Regions from separate parts of the Homo sapiens genome. Here region 1 is linked to region 2. A link means that fine-mapping ties the variant in region 2 to the expression of a gene that starts in the linked region. Tissue or cell type: whole blood. Region 2 holds a variant in brackets; the other region holds the start of a gene. All regions are shown on one strand. Distances are from middle to middle.

Region 1 (8,111 bases), 140 kb before region 2:
ATCAATCAACAAATTAATGGATAAAGAAAATGTGGTACACACATGCACTGGAATATTATTCAGCCTTGAAAAGAAGGAAATTCTGCAATAGGCAACAACATGGTTGGACTTTGAATGCACTATGCTAAGGGAAATAAGTCAGTCATAAAAAGATAAACAGTACATAATACCACTTATATAAGGTAGCTAAAGTAGTCAAACTCATAGAATCAAAGAGTATAATGCTGGTTGCCAGTGGCTGGGGGAGGACGAAACGAGGGGTTACTAATCAATGGGCACAAAGTTTTAATACAGCAAGATGAGTAAGCTATACAACAGTGTACCCGTAGTTAACAATAATGGATTGTACACTTAAAAATATAACAGGGTAGATCTCATGTTAAGGGTTCTTACTATAATAAAATAAGATAAATAAATAAATAAATACATGCTATCATATCCCTATTAGCCTCTACAAAAAGAAACCAAACCTCAAATTTTAAAAAGAGGTGTTTATAAATGACAAATTGCCATTTAAATACACCATGACTGTTGTGTTTGGTCTCAATAAAGAAATGATTTTAAAACTGTGGACATAGCTAAAGCATCTCTATCACAAAAGAAACAATGGCTTATCAGTCTATGAGCAACTTTTTAGTGTTTCTTACAAATCAGGACACTTAATAATAATTGAGAAAACTTAAAAAAAATTCCTTTGAAATGCTTGGGATTACTTCAAACAGAAGAAAGAATCTCCACAATTAGAATGTACTTACAAGTGATTTGTCACAATTTTCAGCTGACTCATCAGCAACACATGTTTTTGCAAATTCAGTTACTTCATTCACTAATTTTACATGATCTTCAAATGGACACTGCTGAAGATACTGAGCAAAGGCAATCAACACCCTGAAACAAAGGATGTAGAAAAATGTAGTATAATAAAACTTTAATATGTAACAGGTTGCTACGCTAGAGAACAAATCATGTATGGGTATAGGTTCTATCTTTTATACATCTTCTTCACCATTATCCAGAAAGCCTATTCATATCAGGTATGATCTGAGGCCTAGATAGGCATATGTGGCTTCCTACGCAAAGAGAATGGTAGTTCCCTAATGTTTATATGTATGCGTGTGTCAGTAGATCTATGCACACACATAGATTAAGCAAGCAAATTGTATGCCAAATAGATCTAATTGTCAAGACTAGGCATTTTTAAAGTCCTTAGAATTACTTAAAACTAAAACAAACCCCACAGATTTCCTTTTTCTTTTTTGAGACAGAGTCTCACTCTGTCACCCAGGCTGGAGTGCAGTGGCACAATCATGGCTCACTGTAGCCTTGACCTCTCAGGTCCAAACGATCCTCCTACGTCAGCCTCCTAAGTAGCTAGGACTACAGGCATGTGCCACCATGCCTAATTTTTTTGTTTGTTTGTTTTGTTTTTTTTAAAGAGACTTGCCCAGGCTGGTCTTGAACTCCTGGGCTCAAGCAATCCTCCTGCATCAGCCTTCCAAAGTGCTGGGATTACAGGTGTGAACCACCGCACCTGATCCCCACACACGTCTTTAATTAGCCTGTAGGATTAGGTAGACTTTTAAAAAAACAATTTTCTCATTTTTTACTAGATTAAAAAACATTTAAATAGGCCGGGCGCGGTGGCTCACTCCTGTAATCCCAGCACTTTGGGAGGCCGAGGTGGGCAGATCACGATGTCAGGAGATTGAGACCATCCTGGCACACGGTGAAACCCCATCTCTACTAAAAATACAAAAGATTAGCCGGGCGTGATGGCGGGCGCCTGTAGTCCCAGCTACTCGGGAGGCTGAGGCAGGAGAATGGCGTGAACCCGGGAGGCGGAGTTTGCAGTGAGCCGAGATTGCGCCACTGCACTCCAGCCTGGGCGACAGAGCGAGACCCTGTCTTAAAAAAAAAAAAAAATTAAATATTCCCAACTAAGCACAGGAATGCTTGCTATGTAAAGAAGATTTAGTGGGTAAGCCACCAAAGGAAACCTATATTAAAGTCCTTTCCACCAAGCAAGTTCCAGAGCTGTACTGTCCAATACAGTAGCCATTAGCCACATGTGACTATATACATTCAAATTAACTACAATTAAATACAATTTAAGTTTTTGTTTCTCAGTTGCACTTGTCATATTTGAAGTACTCAATAGCCATGTGACCAGTGACTACCTTATTGGATAGCCCAGATACAGAATATCTTCCTCAACGCAGAAAACTCTACGAGGCAGCACTGTTTTAGAATCTGAACCCTGATGACAAGGAAATATAAGCACTTTAGAATAATAAACAACACTATTAGAAACATTAAATTTGATTCATCAATATTTTAACTTACAAGGCTTTGAAATTTTCTTCTCCCAAATCTTTAAACCGATGAGCAACCTCACTCTTGTCTGGGCAAGGGAAGAAAAAAAAGGATTGTTAAATACTGAAGAAAACAAGAAGTAATAATGTTACTTTTTATATTTCTTTCCATTTGACTTAGATTATGCATTTGTTTCAAAATATTGGGCTCTGATTCCTACAGAAAAACTCAGGATGATGTTCAATTATTTCTTCTGCCTTTAAACAGAAGAATAATTCAATTACCAAGAATACTATTTTAAAAATTATTAAATATTTATAGCCTTATATTCAAACTTAGATAATATCTAATACTCTTTTAGTGTCTATCAACAGCAACCAAGAAGACAGACTAAAATGAAAATAAATATAAATACAAGTTCTATTTATGAGATCAACAGCACAGGTTTTGTGGTTTTTAAATAAAGCATAGTGCAATGGATAGGTCTTTGGGATAGTTATGAATTCAATCTTCAACCCTATTCTGTGAAGTTTCAGTCACTCTAAGTTACTTTGCACTTTCCTTAGTGCGCAAAAGAAAATTACAGTCACTAAACAATTCTGACCTTTTTTTTTTTTTACCTAGGATGTTTGAATTTTATTAATAAGATAACCTTGTAAGACTTCACAAATACAAAATACTATGCCATTTTAGAAATAAATGCCAAAATAATTCTTTAAAGATGCAGAGTTTACTAAAACTTTATTTTACTGGGAAAATAGAATAAAAGTTGAACAATAGAAAAATGGATTTCTTACGTGCATCTCGACGAAACACACCCCTGGAATAAGCCGAGCTAAAGAGAAAAAGAAGGGAAATAAAGGTTACCCACTTCATTGTGCCAAAGGCGTGTGGGGTTGACAGAAGAGAAAAGCTAGGACAAACGGAGGGAAATTAGCACTAATATACTTCTTTAACCAATAATTGTAGATTATTAACTAGACTCATCTTTGTATTTCATTGGCTGCCAACCGATTACAAAATTCATAATATTCTTGCCAAAAAATTGTTTGACTAAATCCCTTGTGTATATTTACCATCTGGAACTGTTTTCTCCACAAGACCTTGTCAATGTATTAAAGTTGTGTAAAACATCTTATCAAATTTTACATAAGAGTTTAAACGATTTGTACCTTTTATTCATTACCATGGTATTTAACTGTAATTTCCCACTTGAACATTTTAGTTCTTGGTGTTTGCAATTTAGTTCTCAGTGTTTAGTAATTACTAACCAAACTAAATACTTTGCTTAGAAATAAGACATACTGAAAGAGTTAAGTCCCAAATTGCATCTATTGCTAATTCCAAGTGTGCTTTTACCTATAGATAATGAAAAATTTACACACAAGTACTCACGCATGCACACACACATATACATACATACATATTTTAGGGCTTCTGTGTCTTTTTTACTATTCCAAAGCCATTCTGTCTGAAAAAGCTGATGTTGCCTCAGATGCAAACTAAGAAAAAGACATAGCAACAATAACAAGTAAGATAGGACTTAGAAATTCCATGTTCCCATTCCTGCTGTGGCCCACATGTGATTCAAGCCCTGAGATAGGCTATTTAGATTCAGTGTGAGTATATCTCATGGGATCTTCAGTTAAGCAGAGATGGAGAGGAAAATGGACCCAAATGAGATGATGATTATCTTTGCCATAATATACAATAGGACAGGCTGACCCCAAATTCTCTGTAGGTTATGAGAACCCTTGACCTTCACCAGGCATAGGATTCTTTCCATCCCTGTTTCATATTTTTTTCCTTTCTCTCTTTCAATAAGTAGAAAAATCACATGTTCTTTTATGTTGCTTTAAATTTCAAAATAAATTTAACATTATGTCTAAAAACAAAGCGAAGGAAGAATAATTTTTTAAATATTTCATAAATCTTCCTTCCCTACCCAAGGTTCTTATCTCTACCTCAGAAAAGCTATCCTACCTCTGCCCTTTTGCTCAGAATATGAAGAACTACTGAGCTCAACCAGTAGGAAGAACAACTTTCTCTGATACTACAGAACAATAATTAGTACTAAGCCAGTTATTTTACTTAATTAAATAACTCAGTCAGTCAAAACCAGTAGTCAAATTTCCTCATGGCACATAGAGGCACAGAGACTAACAAAGTATTATTTTTTCTACTCAGTCTTATAATGAAAGAAAATTTTTTCTATTCAGTCTTACAATGAAAGAAATTATTTTCTATAATCTTATGTTATTTCTTCTTCAGAAATGGGTACTAATTAACTAATAAAGCACAGAAGAGGAAAAAATCAAAGCTAGATGGATGATAGATACATAGATAGATAGGAAGATTTTTTTTAATGACTCAAGGGAGTCCTGAAAGGAAATACCAGACTTGTCTTTCTGACTACAGATGAACAGACATAAAACAAGTGTGCCTATTTTCCATTGAAGAAAAACAAGCATTTTTTCTAAAGCCAGAAAAACCTACATCTGAAAAGAAAAAAGAAACTATTCTAAGTTAAGAAAATAATTCTTTCTTGGATAAATTATGTCAACTTTTAACTTCCTAGAAATTGTAGGCATTATTTATTAGAAGTCAGTAACCAACTCTAGCTTTTTCCTTGTAGAAGTCCCTGGGAAAGGCCTACCCAAACATAAAATCCTTACTGTTGAATACAATTGTTACTAATTGACAAATTCAGGCCTTTGTCACTCTCACATATACTTTGTGCATACTTTTTCATTTAACAAATGAAAAGAATAATATTAGTCCATTTAGTTTTCACCACAACATTATAATGTAATATATTGTTAAATACAAAGAAACCTAAAAAAATCTCAAATTCATCATGACTGAATAGAAACTTTGAATTGATTTTCCTATATCTAATGAAGAGCCCTAGCTTTAAAACAAAATTGATGAAACCTAAAAGAATCTTTTCTTTTTTTTTTTTTTTTTTTGAGATGGAGTCTCGCTCTTTCGCCCAGACTGGAGTGCAGTGGCACTATCTCGGCTCACTTGCAAGCTCCGCCTCCCGAGTTCACGCCATTCTTCTGCCTCAGCCTCCCGAGTAGCTGGGACTACAGGCGCCCGCCATCACGCCCGGCTAATTTTTTGTATCTTTAGTAGAGACGGGGTTTCACCGTGTGCCAGGGTGGTCTCGATCTCCTGACCTCGTCATCCGCCCACCTCGGCCTCCCAAAGTGCTGGGATTACAGTCATGAGCCACCGCGCCCGGCCAAGAATCTTTTCTTACAGTACTAATGAGGCATTTTGCATATGTGCATCCTACTAAAAGATTAATAGTTTAGAAATTAAAATATTTAATTCTCAATGATATCTGCATACTTAAAATTAATGTTTCTTAAGAAATACTTGAACAATTGCATCTTCTGGATTTGCAAAGTAAAAATTTCTGCATTTTTCTCTGAAAACCTCTGGCATTAATTCTATATGAACATTCTATACTGAGAGAAATAAACCTACATAATTGTTAGTCATTTCTAAATTTCCTGTTCTTCAAACTTTGAAACTCTGTTTAGTCAGTCATCAACGGGCTCTGGCATGAGGGTAAATGCAAATATTTAGAGTAAGAGTTATAAATATGGTTTAGAGATTCTCTTTACTCGGTAAACAGAAAAATAGCCCCAATGATTTTTAAATGTTTTCTCATCTTTGTGGGAGAAGTTTAAAAATAGAGAGTAGTTAAGAAAAGTATTTTCTTTAGAAAGAATAAGTGTACTGATCATTTAGAAAAGAAAAAAAAAATACCTCAATTGAAATGTACATATACCTGGGATTTAAACCTGAGCCTTTAACCCTTTTGTTCTTTGTTTTGCATTCACTTTGACGTGATACAAAAGGCACAGTTTTTAAGTAGATAAAATGTCTCTGAACCGGTCTCCCATTTTCCAGCCACTCTAACAGTAACTTTAAATCCGCACCCTTCTGCTACCCTCAGGACTCCCGAAGCTTCTCACTGAGTCATTCACACCAGGTTTGCCCTCCATCTAGCAATCCATTTAGTCCAGCTTTTATGCCATCTCCCACTCTGATAGGTTATATTTCTGACTCTTCTTCTCTTAAAGATAAAGGGAAACATATTCATGGAAATGTAATAATATCTAATAATATCCTCAATATTTTATAAGAGACTTTCTATAAACAACCACTTTACCCAGAGTCATTCCAAAATACAAGAAATTTGGATTTGTTTGGAGAGAAAATTGGGGACAGGAAAATCTTACCATTTTTCTACTATAAAATAAACATATGCAGATCCTTCCTATCATGAAGAGCTTGTATTACTCTCTACAAAATATGCAAGAGTGGAAAAGTGAAAGACTGTTAAGCATCAAACTAACCAATTGAAACATAATCAGTAATTTAACTTCTTATTCACTTATGGAGATACATTTCCCTCAAAAAAAGTTAGAATGAAAGTGTATAAACTTATATAAGTATTTCTAATGCAAATAAAAATGTATAAACATATAGGTATTCTAATGCAAATAAAAAATTGGAATATAATCCAAACAATTGCTCCCTTATTTCCCTCCATAAGCCATCCCCCCAGATATTCACTTGAATTAGTGAGAAATATGGAATTGGCTGAAGATTTCATAGGGAATGAGGAGAAAAAAGGTTATATCATAAAAACCACCCTAGGTCACCATCTTTGGCTTGTCCCACCTTTTAAGTCCCTCTGCCCCCAGATCTTCCATGATGAAAGAGTCCCTCTCCTTGACTTTCTTCATGTTACACTGGGCCTCTGGAATATATATACATTCGAATTTCCTAACCTTTTACTTTAAATTTCTCAGTTCTTCTCCGTGTGGTTTAATTCAGCTCAGTGTCAGTTTCTAGCTGCAGAACTGGACATGCAGATCTGCATATATCTCTATGCCATATGGGTCAAGTTGGACTAAATTATCTTTAACGATCCTTCTACCTTGAACATTCTGCAATTCCATGTTTTCAATGTGACAGCCTTATCAAATGAGAAAAGGACCTGAGTGGTAGGAAAGAATATATCAAGTTAGGCAATTAGGATTCAAGTTTGAGAGCTTGTTCATTCCTAAGCCTCACAATTGCTCCTCAAGTATTACGCTCTAGCTAGTTCAGCTTAATATTTTTAAAGAATAAAAAGTTCATTTAAACTTATTTAAACTATATTAATGAGACTTTCTCATATTTTTTTATCAAGTTTTTCAAGTGCAAGAAAAATATAGTTAATGTCTGCAATCCATGTTTATCCATTCTTAATAAATTAACAACTAATAGAATCTATAAACATATAAATTGAAATTAATACTAATCCTGTCTCATAAGGATAGCCACAGATGGAAATTAAACAGAAATGAATGCACTTTGAATCTATTCATATTCTATATTTTAAACATGAAATTCAAGAAACTTGTTACTTAAGTTTAAAGTTATAAAATTGAACTTTATCAATCTTCTATAAAACAACTAAGATTGTATAGCTAAAATAGTCTCATGTTGAAATTTTAGTGGATAGAGTTTAGAATGTTTTTATTAAAAGGTATTTTTTCTTCTTGATGTCTTCTATAGCTTTAAGCTTTGCGAGATGTTTTGTAATCTTTTAGTGCCAGTTCTTAGCTAAAACTTTCTCAACCCGTAACCCAGCTGAAGCTTGGAATTTAAGCCTTGAAATTCTCAGGAGTTTTCCAAGAAGGTATGTGTGCGCTGACATCAATAAATGAATTATTTGATCCAAAAAAGTGTAAGTTTTAAGAAATATATCATATAAATAATTGGCAGATGTT
Region 2 (8,111 bases):
CAGTATCTATCCCTTACCTCTTGGAATTTCAATCGAGTAGAAACCCAGGAAATATTTCTCAATTCATGGGATATCTTCCCCTTCTGCAGTATCATTGAGACTGCCTCTGTTTCCCTGTAAGATTTCATTCTTAGGCAGGTTCACTCGACATGATGACCAAAGGCCAGATGTAGCTTGTGTTTTTTTTTTTTTTTTTTTTTGCTTATTCCAGAAGCAGGTGTCTTTTTCTTGATAGTGCTAGCCCAAATGATAAGACTATCTCTGATTAACTTCAGTTTTGTTAATCTGCCCATTCCTGAACTAATCACTATGGCTGAATGATAGGATACTTTGGCTAGCCTGATTTGTGGGCCTACTCCTGTGGTATAAAAATTAGAATTAGGTAATGAACGATTGCATCTGGAGAAAGAGGGACAGGTCTTTATTAGGGCACGCTCTGAAATCTCAGTGGCCTAACACAAAAGAATGCGTATGAGCTGTAGCACAAGTGTCCCTAATTGGCAAGCAAGTATCCTCCCAGTGAAGAGTCAGGAAACTCTAGCACAAGTGTCTCTAATTGGGAAGCAAGTATCCTCCAAGTGAAGATTCAGGAAACCAGGAGTCCTATCTTGCGGCTTTGCCATCTTTAACACATAGTTTCCAGTGCAAATTTGCTCATCTGCCTCAAGTTGATGGGGAGTGGGATATATTGGATTGCTCATGTGATGTTTCCATAGGCCAGAGCTGGAATAGGAGTGCATCACTTCTCACATTCCACTGGTTAGAACCTAATCAGCACACCTAACCCATATACCTAATTGCAAGAGAGGCATGGAAATATAGCTGTGTGGCCAGAAGAATTTAGCATTTGCAAGAATCTACTATTCTGATCACTAAACATGTATTTTACCTGTCTTTCCACACACAGAACATACCCTGTCCCAAAGGAGACAATCTAAAGTTTTAACCAGTTACTGGAACAGGCTCAAAGTCTAGGATTTTCAGAAAATGTGCAGTTCTCTTCATTAGGTACAGATGTGACCTAAGAACTAAAAAGACAAATTATCTTTATTGTCACCCCCATCCCTGCAAACCCAATATATAGTGGTAACTCAGGGACAGATAACTATAATACATTCTCTCATTCAGAAAAAAAATGTGATACTGAGCAATACTATTCATGTATAATAATGATGAAATACTGCATAAACATTTTGCGGCCCATCTCCTTGAAACTGAAGAAAGTTCTGATGAAACTCCAATTCTAGTCTTCAGGAGAAACTCCCTGTCCAGTCTTTAGTACAGCTCCTTATACGAGCTTCTGAAATGTTCTTTTTTTGTCCATCATTCTCCATGGCCACATCCTGTGTGGGTACTGGGGAGCTGTTAAGGTTTTATGCTCTATTTTTCTACTTATGCAAGCTTGGGGTTGGACAGTTACCCTCTGTTTTAACACCCGAACAATGATATTTGAGCCAGATTTAGTATGATTAATAAAATTCCTCTAAAAATGTAGTCTTCTGATTGATTTGCTTCTGGTAACTACACCCAAAGTTCTTTCTTACATAATTATCAAGCCTAATTTACTGCTTTGCTGCCTTGCTCCTATGCCAGTTCCTTTAGACCTTTATCGTAGCTATCTTGAAGCCATCTAAAATAATGACTTTGAATGGAAAGACCAAACCCTTTTCCTGATCTTTGTTGCAGGACTTAATCTCAAGGGTAACTATACTCAAGACCTCTTCTAGTTTTTTTTTTTTTTTTATTAGAAGTCTTATAAAAGTCAACTTTTCCAACCCTTCCTGAGAAATATTCCTGTACACTCTCACTTCTGTGAAGTATTTCCTGAGTTTCTCTCTTTAGTAAAACCTTACTAAAAGTAAAATGTAAAATTCAACACAGTATTACTTTTGCTCTTTTCAATCATTTCCTCTGGAGCTAATCTAAACAGATAGGTGATCTGATTTTGAATTATTTCAGGTGACAGTTTTACTAATTACTTTGCCACTGCAAACATGGGCCTCCTTTTTCTAGCCTCCAAATCACATTCTCTACCACCTGCTGCATCATAAATAAGCTGATGTAACATATTTTAGGTTATTGTTTTAGCAGTACTCCACTTCTTGTACCAATTTCTGGACTAGCTATGGTCATTCTAGCTCCTATACATATAAATTCTCAAATCTCAATTTTTTCTCTTACAGTAAGTGCAAAAAGGGGTGTTTCTAATTGGGGTGGCTGTCTTCCAAGTACTGTTTCAGCCACTCATTCTTCTCTTTTCTGGCTTTGGCATCTCCAATACATAGTTTTGAAGGTCACCATGCTCAAAGGCATCAAGTTGACGAAGAAAGAGTAAGGGAGAATAGGAGGACTTCATTAACCCTAAAAATGAGCACATCATTTCCATTCATATTTAATTGGCTAGAAGTTAATCACGGCCAGGCTCGGTGGCTCACGCCCGTAATCCCAGCACTTTGAAAGCCGAGGTGGGGGAATCACCTGAGGTCGGGAGTTCGAGACCAGCCTGACCAACATGGAGAAACCGTGTCTCTACTAAAAATACAAAATTAGCCGGGTGTGATGGCACATGCCTGTAATCCCAGCTACTTGGGAGGCTGAGGCAGGAGAATCGCTTGAACACGGGAGGCGGAGGTTGCGGTGAGCTGAGATTGTGCCATTGCATTCCAGCCTGAGCAACAAGAGCTAAACTCTGTCTCAAAAAAAGAAGTTCATCACATGACTATAACCAACTACAAGGAAAGCTGTGAAATTTAGTTTAGCTGTGTGCCCGGGAAGAAGAAATAAGTTTCATGGGCTAGTCAGTCCCTGCCAGAGGTTCTAACGGGGGGAAAAAAAGATAAAAATAAAAGAAAGTGACTTTACATGCCTTGTCCATTTTAATAGTTTTGAACCTTATCCTACTAGTGAAACAGGATCATCATTTCACTATTATATTAAAGAACAAAAAACTCATTTTCTTCCAAACAATGAGATTACTTTAAAGAGAGCATTTTTGGTAGCACAGCACGATAGACACAGAGACTAGACTGCAGAGGGCTGACAAGTCAATTTCAGAAAACAAAAAAGACACTGATTGTAGACACTTTTTTTTTGAGATGGAGTCTCGCTCTGTCGCCCAAGCTAGAGTGCAGTAGCAGGATCTCAGCTCACTGCAAACTCCGCCTCGCAGGTTCAAGCGATTCTCCTGCTTCAGCCTCCTGAGTATAGAATACTTTTTAAAGAAAGAAAGTTTGCTTGTGAAGGAAATAATTGAAAGCTACAGAAGAATTAGCTAAGGAACCAGAATTTGTAGAAGGTTGACAACAGAAAAGATAATAAATGCATGAGAAAGAGGGGTATTGGAACTAGAATATGTATGAAGAGTTTATCTCATATATGAACAGGGAGTCTCTCATTCGTTGATACTGGAGAAAAGGCAATCTCAGGAAATTTCTAGCACTTGGAAAATTGTGAAGTCTAAGTTAAAAGTCATATAATAAAATGGGCTGGGATTTAAAGATTGCGAAAAGTATTCAAGTGGAAAGGGAGAAAAAGATGCTGAAGAATATACAAAGTAGGAGGGAGGGATGCAGCTGAAATTATAAAATCTAAATCAGTAGTGGTGAGATACACAATGCAGTGCTCTGTTCTACACTGGAACTCAGCAACGACTGTAGGAGAGGAATAGGCAGATGGTTACCACTCCGTATATATATTTACTATAGCACTTATTACACTGTAAAGCCCCTGGAAACAAGAGACTTTGATTCCACAAATTATGCGCACAGTAGGCACATGATGAATTTTTGTTTGAATGAATTGATTTAGTCATTGCCAATTCTGCCTTGGTACTCTGTAGAGTACTGGCAACTGCCCACATTTCATATGGTATGCCAATGCTAAAAAGAAAAAAAATGCTAAAAAAAAAAAAAATCCAGGCATATTCAGCTAAACTAAGCAGTCTTAAAATGGCAACTATGTCAGCTGAGACATACTTTTAATCTTGTGCCAGTACATCTGTCTTTGATGTTTGCTTCATTTTCCGTATGCCACTATACTCCTACTAGACCAGAAAGGGATAATTCTGAGTTCAATGGGCTCCACTATCATTTCAAAAGTCCTGAAACTTCTTCAGACACCTAAAAATGAACCCACAACTCCCATAACAGCATTCCTTCCGAGAGAAGTATACAGACAACAATCACTATTTATGCTTGCTTCCAAGCTGAATCGAAGAGGGCCGGAAGAGCTAAATCAGGGTCATTCAGTGAATCGTCTACAAAGTCTGGCACAGACCACGCATCCTTCCCGTGTCTTCCTCCCCTTGGAAACTTGAGGTGTAAGTAATGATCTTAGACATCTCCTAATCGACTGCCTTCATATTACACACGTGTAAACTCAGGTAGAGGATGTCTATGAGCCGAGCTTAAACTCAGGTAAAGAAGGCTCTTTTCCCAACACGACGCCATCTCTCATGATCCAAAGCTCTATCTCTCGATTTGGCGGTGGAAAAAAATGACCAGGAATAAAACTACGTACAGCAGTCCAGAACGAGGCCCCACCTCCCGGATCTGGCGGACCGGCCTCCCGTCAGCAAAGTGTCTGGACCGCGCTTCCGCACCTCACACTGCCCG[G/C]GGCCGGCTCCTCTCCAGCCTCCCCGTACTCCCCACACGCCGCAGCACTGCGCGCCCGCGGGGCCCCAGACCCGGCCCTTGAAATCTCACTTTCGCCTTTCGGCCACCCGCGCGCCACGGCTCAGGCGACGGCTGATGGCGTCACTGCACTTCCGCCTGCGGCTGCGTTCTAATCACAAGCCAGGAAGGAAGAAGGGAGGGCTGCAGGGCTGTGTGTGCGGGAAATAGCGAGGAAAGAGAAGAAATCCGGGAGCTCGCGGGCGCTCTGGTTGCAATCGCGCCCCCCTCATCTGTCCCCGCCGTTCCCCTTCGGAAGCTGCCCCAGGCACACTTCCCCGCTTCTTTCCAGTCTCCTCTCCTCTGGTTCTCCCGACACCCGGTCTCCCTGTTACGCCTCACCCTCCTTCCCTTGCTCCCTCCCTCTCCCTCCCTCCCTCCCTCCCATCGTCAGGCTCCCCGCCCTTAGTATCGCGAGACGAGGTGAGAGCTGGCGGAGCGGCGGCGGCGGCGGCGGCAGTAGAGGTGACCGAGGCGGTGGCGGCGGAGGCGGCACCGATTGCTGTGTCGGCCCCAGTGCGGCCGAAGTCGCGGTAGAGCGTAGCCCCACGCCCCTCCCCCGTCCGCGCCCTCCCTCTTTCCCTGGGGATGGAGAAGGCGACGGTTCCGGTGGCGGCGGCGACGGCTGCAGAAGGAGAAGGGAGCCCCCCGGCGGTGGCGGCTGTGGCGGGCCCCCCCGCGGCGGCGGAGGTCGGCGGCGGCGTTGGCGGCAGCAGCAGAGCTCGCTCGGCCTCGTCTCCTCGTGGGATGGTGCGAGTCTGCGACCTGCTCCTGAAGAAGAAGCCGCCGCAGCAGCAGCACCACAAGGCCAAGCGTAACCGGACTTGCCGACCCCCCAGCAGCAGCGAAAGCAGCAGCGACAGCGACAACAGCGGCGGCGGTGGAGGCGGCGGTGGAGGCGGAGGTGGCGGCGGCGGCACCAGCAGTAACAACAGCGAGGAAGAAGAGGACGACGACGACGAGGAAGAGGAGGTTTCTGAGGCAAGGGCCTGGTTTCAAAGGAAGGAGGGAGGAAGGGACTGTAAGGGATAGGGGCCGAAGGTGGGAGGGGATTTGGAGTGGGACAGATTCCAGTGGGTTGATCTCTTAGGGGCCAGGCTTTCGACTGCCCCCTTTCTTCCCTCGGCCTAAATCGTGAGGTGTGGGAATGTGGGGGAGGGTAGCTGACACGTGGGGGTGGGAGGACCACGGAGTTCACAGAGTTGGTGAACAGCCTGTTATCATGGGATGGCTCACTTGGTTAAGGATGGAGGGAATTGGTTAGATTCCCTGTTTGCACGCCGGGGGGTGGGGGGGTGGTCTGCCTGGGGCCAGTAGGGCCACCTTAGTCTGAGGCGGGATCGGGATCAAAGCGGGAGGAGTAAAATAATGGGTAAATGAGTCTCTTGGGGACCAACTAGGAGGTTGATCAACTTCTCCCAGTTGTGAGGTGGAGGGGAGCAGTTTGAGGGGGGACGTAAGGTTGTAATGGACTCAGAGCTAAGTGTTTGTGTATGTGAGGGACACGTGAGAAGCTGTACTTTTCCATACTGTTCTGCAGGGTTTTTCGTAACTATCCTGGCTGCTGAAGTAACTTCATTTCCTCGATCTCCCAGGGATTTTCGATGAACTGATGCTGTATTTGTATAAATTTATCAGTAACTTTAAATAATTACAAATGACCATATACATTTGTAAGTGGATGAAAAATATATTTGATCCTTACACGTACATACATACATGCCTTCGAATGTTTCCTTAGTGAGTTAGAATTAAGCTAGGACCTGTTGTCCCGTAATATGGGACAGCCAAAGGGTAGGCTTTGGAGCCAGGCCTGGTTGTGGTGAGTTGGAATAGGAAGGCCTCTCGGTTTGTCCTAGTGATCTGGTTTCATAATAACTTTATAATTTTTCCTGGGTCCACAGACAGGCGGCGTTGCAGGACCTTATTCCTCACAGAAGCCCTTACAACCCAAAGGCTCAGTAAAACATACCATACTGACAACCAACTGAGAGTTAGCTTTACTAGTTATTAGCTGTTTTACCACTCTCTTGTCTCCTTCCTGAAATAGAATCTAGAAAAATCTTTATTTGGAGAGGGAAATCTTTATCAGCAGAGGGAAAACAGCTTTAAAGGCTGATTTTAAACTTAGTTCTAAGAGGAGACCAAGTGATTCATCTAAAAGTACCACTTACTATTTATTCTCTTCCACAAACATGGAACTTATTTTGATGCAAGTCTGGTTTTCCGAAAATTGGAATTATTGAATCCTGGTCTCTGTTGAAATAGAGAAGTACCTTTTAAAGGATTTGACACATGTCTATTTGTAGAAGACCAGATTCTCTTTTATCTCAGACTGGATGAAGTTGTATAGGTAGAGATATTAAGTGCTGAAGTATGTATGACAAAAATATGCCAGTCCTTGTTTTTATTCCCTTTTAGCCTGTTGGATTCTGAGAATAGGTTTGTATTGATAGACTTATATTGGCCTACTTGGATGTTTAGGATAGTGTGTTGCTCTGGCGGCATTTGAAACAAGGAAGAGAAAGATGTAATGGGGTCCTTATCCCTAATAAAATTTGTTATGGTACTTAGAATCATTCAATTGTATGATTCTTCTCAAAGGTGAGAAACATTTTACAGGTAATTCAGCCCTTTATTTTAAAAAGGAGGAAAACAAGGTTTAGAGGAAAGTGGTTGTGGTGGGTAGTAGCAAAAGTACAAATCAAAGTTTTCTAATGTCTCAGACCTGTACACTTTTTAATAATAATTTATTTCCTTTTATCACCCTCCTGATATCATTCAGAAAAATAGTTACTGAATAGCAAGGTAACACAATCATGCAGCTATAGGCAAAATACCATTACTTAAAATTTTAAATTCTCGTGAAACTATTAAGCTCTGGTTTAGAGCAAGGTTATGATAGTTGAATGCAGTACTTACTGGGATATTCTGCTGCAAACTTAACATACCTAGGTAGTTTTGTCCATTGGAATGCGGCCTAATAAGCAGAACTTTTAGTAATTCCTTAAATCATGAAGAATGGCTGTAAGTTTGTAGGTATGTTTATTTTGTGGGTCAGGTTTGTTTTCCTTTTGTAATATAGGAATGGTTATGTTGACTTTCACCAACTATGGTAGTATTTCTATGTTTTTAACATACCTTATCCTGTCTTTTACATGGTGTTAAACAATGGGTTTGTCATTTATGAAGATGAGTCAGGAGAAATACGTGTAAGAAAGTGTGCCCATTGGCCGGGCGTGGTAGCTCACGCCTGTAATCCCAGCACTTTGGGAGACCGAGGCGGGCGGATCACCTGAGGTCAGGAGTTTGAGACCAGCCTGGCCAACATGGTGAAACCCCATCTCTACTAAAAATACAAAAAAATTAGCCGAGTGTGGTGGCAGATGCCTGTAATCTCAGCTACTTGGGAGGCTGAGGCAGGAGAATTGCTTGAACCCG

The links. PIP is the estimated chance that this variant, and not a neighbour inherited with it, causes the effect.
Region 1: it holds the start of ALB, and the variant in region 2 is fine-mapped to the expression of ALB in whole blood (TOPMed, PIP 0.96).

Annotation. Positions count from the first base shown.
Region 1 is chr4:73,399,406-73,407,516 of GRCh38, reverse strand. It overlaps ALB (albumin), which reads right to left and starts at 3,230. Exons shown (of 15, transcript NM_000477.7): 1 at 3,111-3,230; 2 at 2,344-2,401; 3 at 756-888. The coding sequence starts at 3,189. RefSeq lists promoters at 3,190-3,595, 3,175-4,336 and enhancers at 3,563-3,602, 4,875-5,095.
Region 2 is chr4:73,255,816-73,263,926 of GRCh38, reverse strand. ANKRD17 (ankyrin repeat domain 17) reads left to right here and starts at 5,129. Exons shown (of 34, transcript NM_032217.5): 1 at 5,129-5,651. The coding sequence starts at 5,259. ANKRD17-DT (ANKRD17 divergent transcript) reads right to left here and starts at 4,761. Exons shown (of 5, transcript NR_187399.1): 1 at 4,519-4,761. RefSeq lists enhancers at 4,608-4,877, 4,480-5,076, 7,477-7,977 and a silencer at 5,038-5,437. The variant G/C (reference allele first, on the strand shown) is at 4,614.